2 linked regions of the Homo sapiens genome follow. The protein of the gene in region 1 purifies or fractionates together with the protein of each later gene. This does not show direct contact. Each region holds a gene or a part of one and is shown in the gene's direction. Other genes may lie near its edges. The genes, in order: SLC25A51 and PCOLCE2.

What was found.
Region 2: the proteins of SLC25A51 (region 1) and PCOLCE2 purify together in Homo sapiens (affinity purification with mass spectrometry; one large-scale study listed by BioGRID and IntAct). This does not show direct contact.

What each region holds. Positions count from the first base shown.
Region 1 is NC_000009.12:37,890,470-37,894,293, reverse strand, and holds part of SLC25A51 (mitochondrial nicotinamide adenine dinucleotide transporter SLC25A51), read left to right. Parts: intron 1-3,824. UniProt on the Homo sapiens protein: Mitochondrial membrane carrier protein that mediates the import of NAD(+) into mitochondria. Mitochondrial NAD(+) is required for glycolysis and mitochondrial respiration.
Region 2 is NC_000003.12:142,840,465-142,844,288, reverse strand, and holds part of PCOLCE2 (procollagen C-endopeptidase enhancer 2 precursor), read left to right. Parts: intron 1-1,240; coding exon 1,241-1,365; intron 1,366-3,824. UniProt on the Homo sapiens protein: Binds to the C-terminal propeptide of types I and II procollagens and may enhance the cleavage of that propeptide by BMP1.

The sequences.
Region 1 (3,824 bases):
GACCTTTCCTCTAGACACTCTCTGGAAGGTCTTGGAATTAAAAATGTATATCTTTTGTATACCCACTCACACACTTGGCAAGCTGAATTGTCCACAGAGTTTTCCAAACCTTAATAATACAAAACCATAAAAAAAAACAGCAACCATAAATAGGAGGTAGAATAAATTGTATACAGTGCAGTCATTTCATAGAGTACTGTGCAACCATTCTAAACGCTCAGGTATCTCTGTGCTAATATTAGATTCCAAAATGCATTGTTACATACCTCACTTTTTAAACTTAGTAGTGTGTGTGTGTGTTTCTTTTTAAAATGACGAGTAGGTTGAAGAGGGCAGGGAATAGGGGTGGGTGAGCGTGAACAGAGTCAGGCTGATTGCTGCAGGGTCCCTTGCATTAGTTCAGGTGAGAAGAGACCCGAGTAGGCCAGTGAGCCTGGAGGAGAGGCTCTCTGTGTGTTTAATTGGTTTCCAGCTTTTTTTCTCTATTCATGTAGGTTATACACGTTTCTTCTGTGAATTTTTATTTAAATGATTTTTTGTTGTTACTGGATCTACAAACAGCCCAACTCCAAGGAATCTGGCATCTCTCAGTGGAGCATACAGGTGACTTCATAATCTAACCGCATTAGTAACTGCCAAAATCGGAAGTAATTTCTCTCTGTTTAAAAGGCAGTGAAACAAATTTTCAGAGCAGGTTTCTTCAACTGAACAAAATATTTTGGACCTTAGAGGTGGTATGGCTCTCCTGATCAGGGAGGGACAGTGAAAGGTTTGAGCTCTGACACTGCCCAGCTCTCTGGATACAACCAAGTGACTTTCTTTGAGTGGGGAGAAGTTTCCTGACTCCTTGTATTACCTTCCTTAGGGTAGACTTTGGGCCTGCAGTGACATTAGTCCTAACTTGCTCTTAGGTAAAAAGAGTTCATCTTTTCTAATAGGAACATGACAGCAAAGCAGCTCAAACTCCAAAGAGGCGTTAGGCCATAGATTGTACAGATGTCTACATTTTCTTAATCATAGTCTATATTCTTAGAAAAGGATATACAGATCTTAGTGTAACATACTTAAGTAAAATAGTTTCTTTCATTTGCTTCACAAGAGAAAGCAAAAAAATTTGGCTGGGCACAGTGGCTTACACCTGTAATCCCAGCACCTTGAGAGGCTGAGGCAGTTGGATCACTTCAGCCCAGAAGCTCAAGACCAGCCTGGGCAACATGGTGAAACCTCATCTCTACAAAAAAAATACAAAAATTGGGCCAGGCGCTGTGGCCCACACCTGTAATCCTAGCACTTTGGGAGGCCAAGGCGGGCGGATCACCTGAGGTCAGGAGTTCAAGACCAGCCTGACCAACACAGCAAAAATCTGTCTTTACTAAAAATACAAAAACTAGCTGGGCATGGTGGTGCGCACTTGTAATCCCAGCTACTTGGGAGGCTGAGGCAGTAAAATCGCTTGAACCCAGGAGGCAGAGGTTGCAGTGAGCTGAGATCGTGCTACTACACTGCAGCCTGGGCAACAGAGTGAGACTCCATCTAAAAGAAAAAAAAAAAAATTAACCAGGTGTGGTGGCATGTGCCTGTAGTCCCAGGTACTCAGAGGGCTGAGGTGGGAGAATTGCTTGACCCCAGGAGGTTGAGGCTGCAGGTGAGCCAAGATTGCACTACTGCATTCCAGCCTGGGCAACAGTGAGACACTGTCTCAAAAAAAAAGAAAAAGAAAAAAATATATATATATAATGTAGTATTGTATATATTGTATATATATAATGTAGTATTGTTCAGAGGGTCTTGGGATTTTCCTGAGGGTCCTAACCGGCTTCTCTGTCCTCATCAGCTACCCATCCTTCTCTACCTACGTTGTGCCCCTGCAGGGCATACACAAGTAACCTCCAAGAACGCGATGCCGCTGCTCCTTTAGCCCAACACCTGTGCCTTAGCCTCTGCTGCTCCATTGGCTAAAATGTGCTTCACCCTTATGTGCATAGTGACAGTTATTCAGCTTTCAGAGCCGAGCCCACGGGTCATGTCCTGCCTGTCATTCTCTCCAGACAGCTGATTAATGACCTCCTGCTGTATGGGGCCTTGATACCTTCCATGATTTCATTTATCTCCCTGTTGTCTAATTATTTGCCTGTCTTATCTCCCCTGACATAGGTACCTGACATACGTATGCTATTTAATTTTTACTTTGCGTCTAAATACCATTAAAAATTCAAAATTAATCCTACACTGAACCTTAAACACTTCTTTATTTTTAATAACTTTATGTCTCATCCTGTGGATACATCTTCACTTACACATTGTGTCTTTTACTATTGAGCATTTGTATTCATTATTTGCTGTTAAAAGCCTGGCTGTGACTATCTTATGGCTGAATCTTTTTTTTTTTTTTTTTAAAGTAGTTGTGTGTATATATATATATATAAAATTTTTTTTTTTTTTTTTATCATTCTTGGGTGTTTCTCGCAGAGGGGGATTTGGCAGGGTCATAGGACAATAGTGGAGGGAAGGTCAGCAGACAAACAAGTGAACAAAGGTCTCTGGTTTTCCTAGGCAGAGGACCCTGCGGCCTTCCGCAGTGTTTGTGTCGCTGGGAACTTGCGATTAGGGAGTGGTGATGACTCTTAACGAGCATGCTGCCTTCAAGCATCTGTTTAACAAAGCACATCTTGCACCGCCCTTAATCCATTTAACCCTGAGTGGACACAGCACATGTTTCAGAGAGCACAGGGTTGGGGGTAAGGTCATAGATCAACAGCATCCCAAGGCAGAAGAATTTTTCTTAGTACAGAACAAAATGGAGTCTCCTATGTCTACTTCTTTCTACACAGACACAGCAACAATCTGATTTCTCTGTCTTTTCCCCACATTTCCCCCTTTTCTATTCGACAAAACCGCCATCGTCATCATGGCCCGTTCTCAATGAGCTGTTGGGTACACCTCCCAGACAGGGTGGCGGCCGGGCAGAGGGGCTCCTCACTTCCCAGAAGGGGCTGCCGGGCAGAGGCGCCTCCCACCTCCCGGACGGGGCGGCTGGCCGGGTGGGGGCTGCCCCCCACCTCCCTCCTGGACGGGGCGGCTGGCCGGGCGATGGCTGAATCTTTGTGTACATGTTGTGTGAATTATTTTCTTAATCTGTAGTCTTAGAAGGAAAATTATGGTTGTGTGTGTGTTCCATATTCATTACACATTGGTGGCTCTGGCAGATATACGCCCCTTAGGAACTAATGCTATCTGATTCTTTCTGTGCCTCAGCTCTACGCTTTCTACTTTGAGAGTGATCATGGTTCTCTTTAACATCTTTTGTCCTGAGTGTTGAGCAGTTCACCACAGCATGTGTGTAGTATGAGGAGGGAAAAAAAACTTAAGGAACTTGGCAATTTTTTGTTCCAAGTGAAAGACCTAGACGGTTTTTTGTTGTTTTTATTATTTCCCATTGAAACTCTTAAATATGGTTTGGATTGTTTCCACCTCTTGGCTGTTGTGAATAGTACTTCTGTGAACGTGGGTGTACAAGGTCTTTGAGACTGCGCTTTCAATTGTTTTGGTTATATCCCCAGAAGTAGGATTGTTGGATCGTATGTTCTTTTTTTTTTTTAAAGCAGGGTATTACTCTGTCACCCAGGCTGGAACGCAGTGACATGAACACAGCTCACTGCAGCCTGAACTTCCTGGGCTCAAGAGGTCCTTCTCCCTCCACCTTCCCAGTAGCTGGTGTACGCCATCATGCCCCAAAAATTTATTTTGATTTTTGTAGAGGCAGAGTCTCACTATGTTGCCCAGGCTGGGCACAAATTTGTGGCCTCATGCAATCCTCCCACCTT
Region 2 (3,824 bases), on another chromosome or scaffold:
CTCTAAAATTAAACTCATCTAATGGGAAGTTTTTCAGAAAAGTAGTGTAGAGAACTGGCAGGATGGGAAGAGATGCACAAATTTAGTGGGAAATGGATTCTATATCATCATAGGAGTGTGGTTTACACAGGTATATCCATTTTTCAGATTTGTACAGCTAAGATTTGTGCATTTCAGAGTATGTGAATTTCTCTCCCCAAAACCTGTAAAATAATAATAATAAAAACAATGAAGCAGGTCGTGGGGATTGGGTGGCAATATAGATAGAATAATAGAATGATGACTATTATTGTAACTGGGTAATGGATATGTAGGAGGTCATTATATTATTCTACTTACTTTGTATATACTTGAAATTTTTCATTAAATGGAGATTTAGAAATTATTCCAACCTCCATTTTTATAATACATTATCTTAAATTTAGAAGTTTGATTTAAGAATGGTTGGATATATTCTGTGTCAAAGAAATATTCCATTGAAGTATAATTATTTTAGTTTCAGTTCAGTTTTTATTTGTTATTTACATTCAAGTAAAATTAAATTTAGAACTTCGTATTAAAATAATTCTTACATTATTTCTGCCAACCTACAGGTACATATGCAACTTATGAGTACAGATGCCTGAAATGATATTTGTCACCTATTAATTTTGATGAGTTTTTGGTGGCTAAAACTGGGGATTTGGGGGTATATTTTTGCTTCCTTCCTTGTGCCTTTCTGTATTGCTGAAAATTTGTAAATATTATTTTTACAAACAAAATTTATTCTTAAAACATATATATATTATATACATATTATATATATATCATGGGAAGTTTTCTAGTAATGAGAGCTGTCTATATCAACTAATTCAAATTTTGTCCCTGGGTGTTTACTAAATACCAATGCCTTGAGGAGCCTTAACATCTCTATGATTTTTTGAGCCTGCAAGCTTTCTGAGTGAGTGCATATTCAAATGTTTTGTCTTCCTTGTCTAAGGAAAAAAAAAGAAAAGAGGCCCTGAGTCCACTTCTCCCCTCTCTCGTGTTGCTATGCTATGTCAGGTAACAAAGATCATTCATTGTGTGTGTTGGGGGGTTATGTATGTAACCATATGTTTAAGAGAAAATGTAAGCGCTTCTGCTGTTGCCTTTATTTACTGTACTCTCACCAAAGATCCCACATTCCTAATCTCCACATGGTTGTATTGCTGTAACCTACATAAACTTGTGGGCTTTTTTCCTTGTTTAATACTTGAAGGGGATCAGTATTGTGGAGGACTCCTTGACAGACCTTCCGGCTCTTTTAAAACCCCCAACTGGCCAGACCGGGATTACCCTGCAGGAGTCACTTGTGTGTGGCACATTGTAGCCCCAAAGAATCAGGTGAGATTCCCTGGAAGTGTGAAGAAAGCATGCATGTGTGAATTGCCCAGTGTGGGGGGCCCACCAACTCTCAAGAGCCTCCTGTTGTGGGGGCTATTCGAGAGCTAAGGGATACAAGAAGAGGAAGGTTCCTGGACACAGGTATTTCTTCATGCGAAGACCCCAGATATTTTTTTTTTTTTTTGAGACAGAGTTTCGCTCTTGTCGCCCTGTCTGGAGTGCAATGGTGCGATCTCAGCTCACCGCAACCTCCACCTCCTGGGTTCAAGCGATTCTCCTGCCTCAGCCTCACGAGTAGCTGAGATTACAGGCACGCGCCACCACGCCCGGCTAATTTTGTATTTTTTTAGTAGAGACAGAGTTTCTCCATGTTGGTCAGGCTGGTCTCAAACTCCCGGCCTCAGGAGATCCGTCTGCCTTAGCCTCCCAAAATGCTGGGATTACAGATGTGAGCCACCGTGCCCGGCCTAGCCTTTGCATTTTTTTGAGTTGCAAATTCATGGATTTAATTTCCTGCTATATAATGACAATTTTCAAAACAGTTTTAAAAATACAAATGGTAAGCAGATCTCACATAGGATTGTTTAACCCTGCAGTGGATGTTATAAGCAGCAGCGACTAACTGTGGGAGGATAAAAATCCCCAGGTCCATGGACATTTCAGGTTACCATTTGCTCCCATCACAAACCCATCATGTCCTGATAATAGTTATTCTAGTGACTAAATAAAAAAGTGTGGATGCTTTGCCTCAACAAAGCCAACAAAAGCAAGCCACATTATCTCTTCAAAGAACAAGCTGGTCTGCTTTAGGGTGTTTTTGGTTGTCATTTAAAATAAAATATGTGCAGGTTCCCCACAAAAAGCTTCATTCATTGTTCTGAAATAATCAACAGAGAAGGTCGACTTTTCCAGTATTTATTAATTTGTGGTTACATATACAACTTTTTACCCTTTCTGGGAACCAGTTTCACATATTAATTGCAGGAAAGAACTTAGCATAGAAACACATGAAATCTACTTTGTGGACCTTTAAAGATAACTTTATAAAAATTATTACTATTAGAAACACTATAGACTTTAACCCAAACACTATGAGGTAAACATTATGATACTGTTTTTAAAAAAACTTTTCTAAATTAACCTTTCATATAGCTTGAACAGATACCATTTGTCATGTATTTCTTTTTTTATAGAAAATTATTTAAGCTAATATACCATGCAAGTTAGTGATTTGAACATATACACATATATACAGACATAAACAGTGATCATAATTCCAAAACTTGGTTTTATTTTTAAGAAGAAATATATGGCCATTTATTTAATAATGGAAGATTTTATAAGTCTGTTGAATGTTTTATAAAGTAATTTTAAAAATTGTGTTTCTGAAACATTTAAACCATTATGTAATTCTTGAAATTATATTGATCATTTTCTCTGTGACATTTGTAAATATATTTGACCAAATAATTCCAACTTAATTATACTTGCAGATTACAGTTAAGCATCTCTTTTCCATTGTTCTTCCCTTTGATCATTTAAATGTTAAGTTTGATTTTTATTTGATTTTAATGTGATTTTTGGCTTCTGTCAATTGAGTTCTTAATCACTGTGTTTGAAATCACTGGCAGTTTCTCAAAGGAGAAAAATATAATGGGAAAATTAAGTCCTAAATAGTTTCTATGCAAGGGAATTATTGTATTGAAGGAATTTCATTGGAATTTTCTTCTATTAAAGAATTACCTTACCATCATTTGTTACCACAGTTCTTTTCCTTTATCTTCTTCTTTACTTTTTTTAATCTTCTCTGCAAAAGTTTTTGTGACTAATTTCTTTTTTTTTTTTTTTTGAGACGGAGTCTTGCTCTGTCACCTAGGCTGGAGTGCAGTGGTGCGATTTCGGCTCACTGCAACTTCCACCTCCCGGGTTCGGTCCATTCTCCTGCCTCAGCCTCCTGAGTAGTTGGGACTACAGGAACCCGCCACCATGCCTGGCTAATTTTTTGTATTTTTAGTGGAGATGGGGTTTCACCGTGTTGGCCAGAATGGTCTCGATCTCCTGACCTCATGATCTGCCTGCCTCGGCCTCCCAAAGTGCTGGGATTACAGGCGTGAGCCACCACGCCCAGCCTTTGTGACTAATTTCTAAGTAGAAAAAGTTCGCCAATTTTTTTAATAACCTGGAAAGCATTTTATTAGTAAGTGGTAAGAAGTCACTGGACCCAAAGAGGAAATATTTTAATACAATTTAAAGCCATCTTAAGTATGAATAAGCATTATTCACCTATCACTGGCACTGACTTTTTAAAAGGTAGTTCAGTCCAAAGATGTGTGGAAATTATGGTCAAAGCCAAAATTACCTTTGTGTCCATCTGTGATGCTGTTGCTATTATCATCTTCACCTGGATTACTGTGTTTGAGTCTTCTCTAGCTAATAGGAATTAATGTCCTTTATCTTCC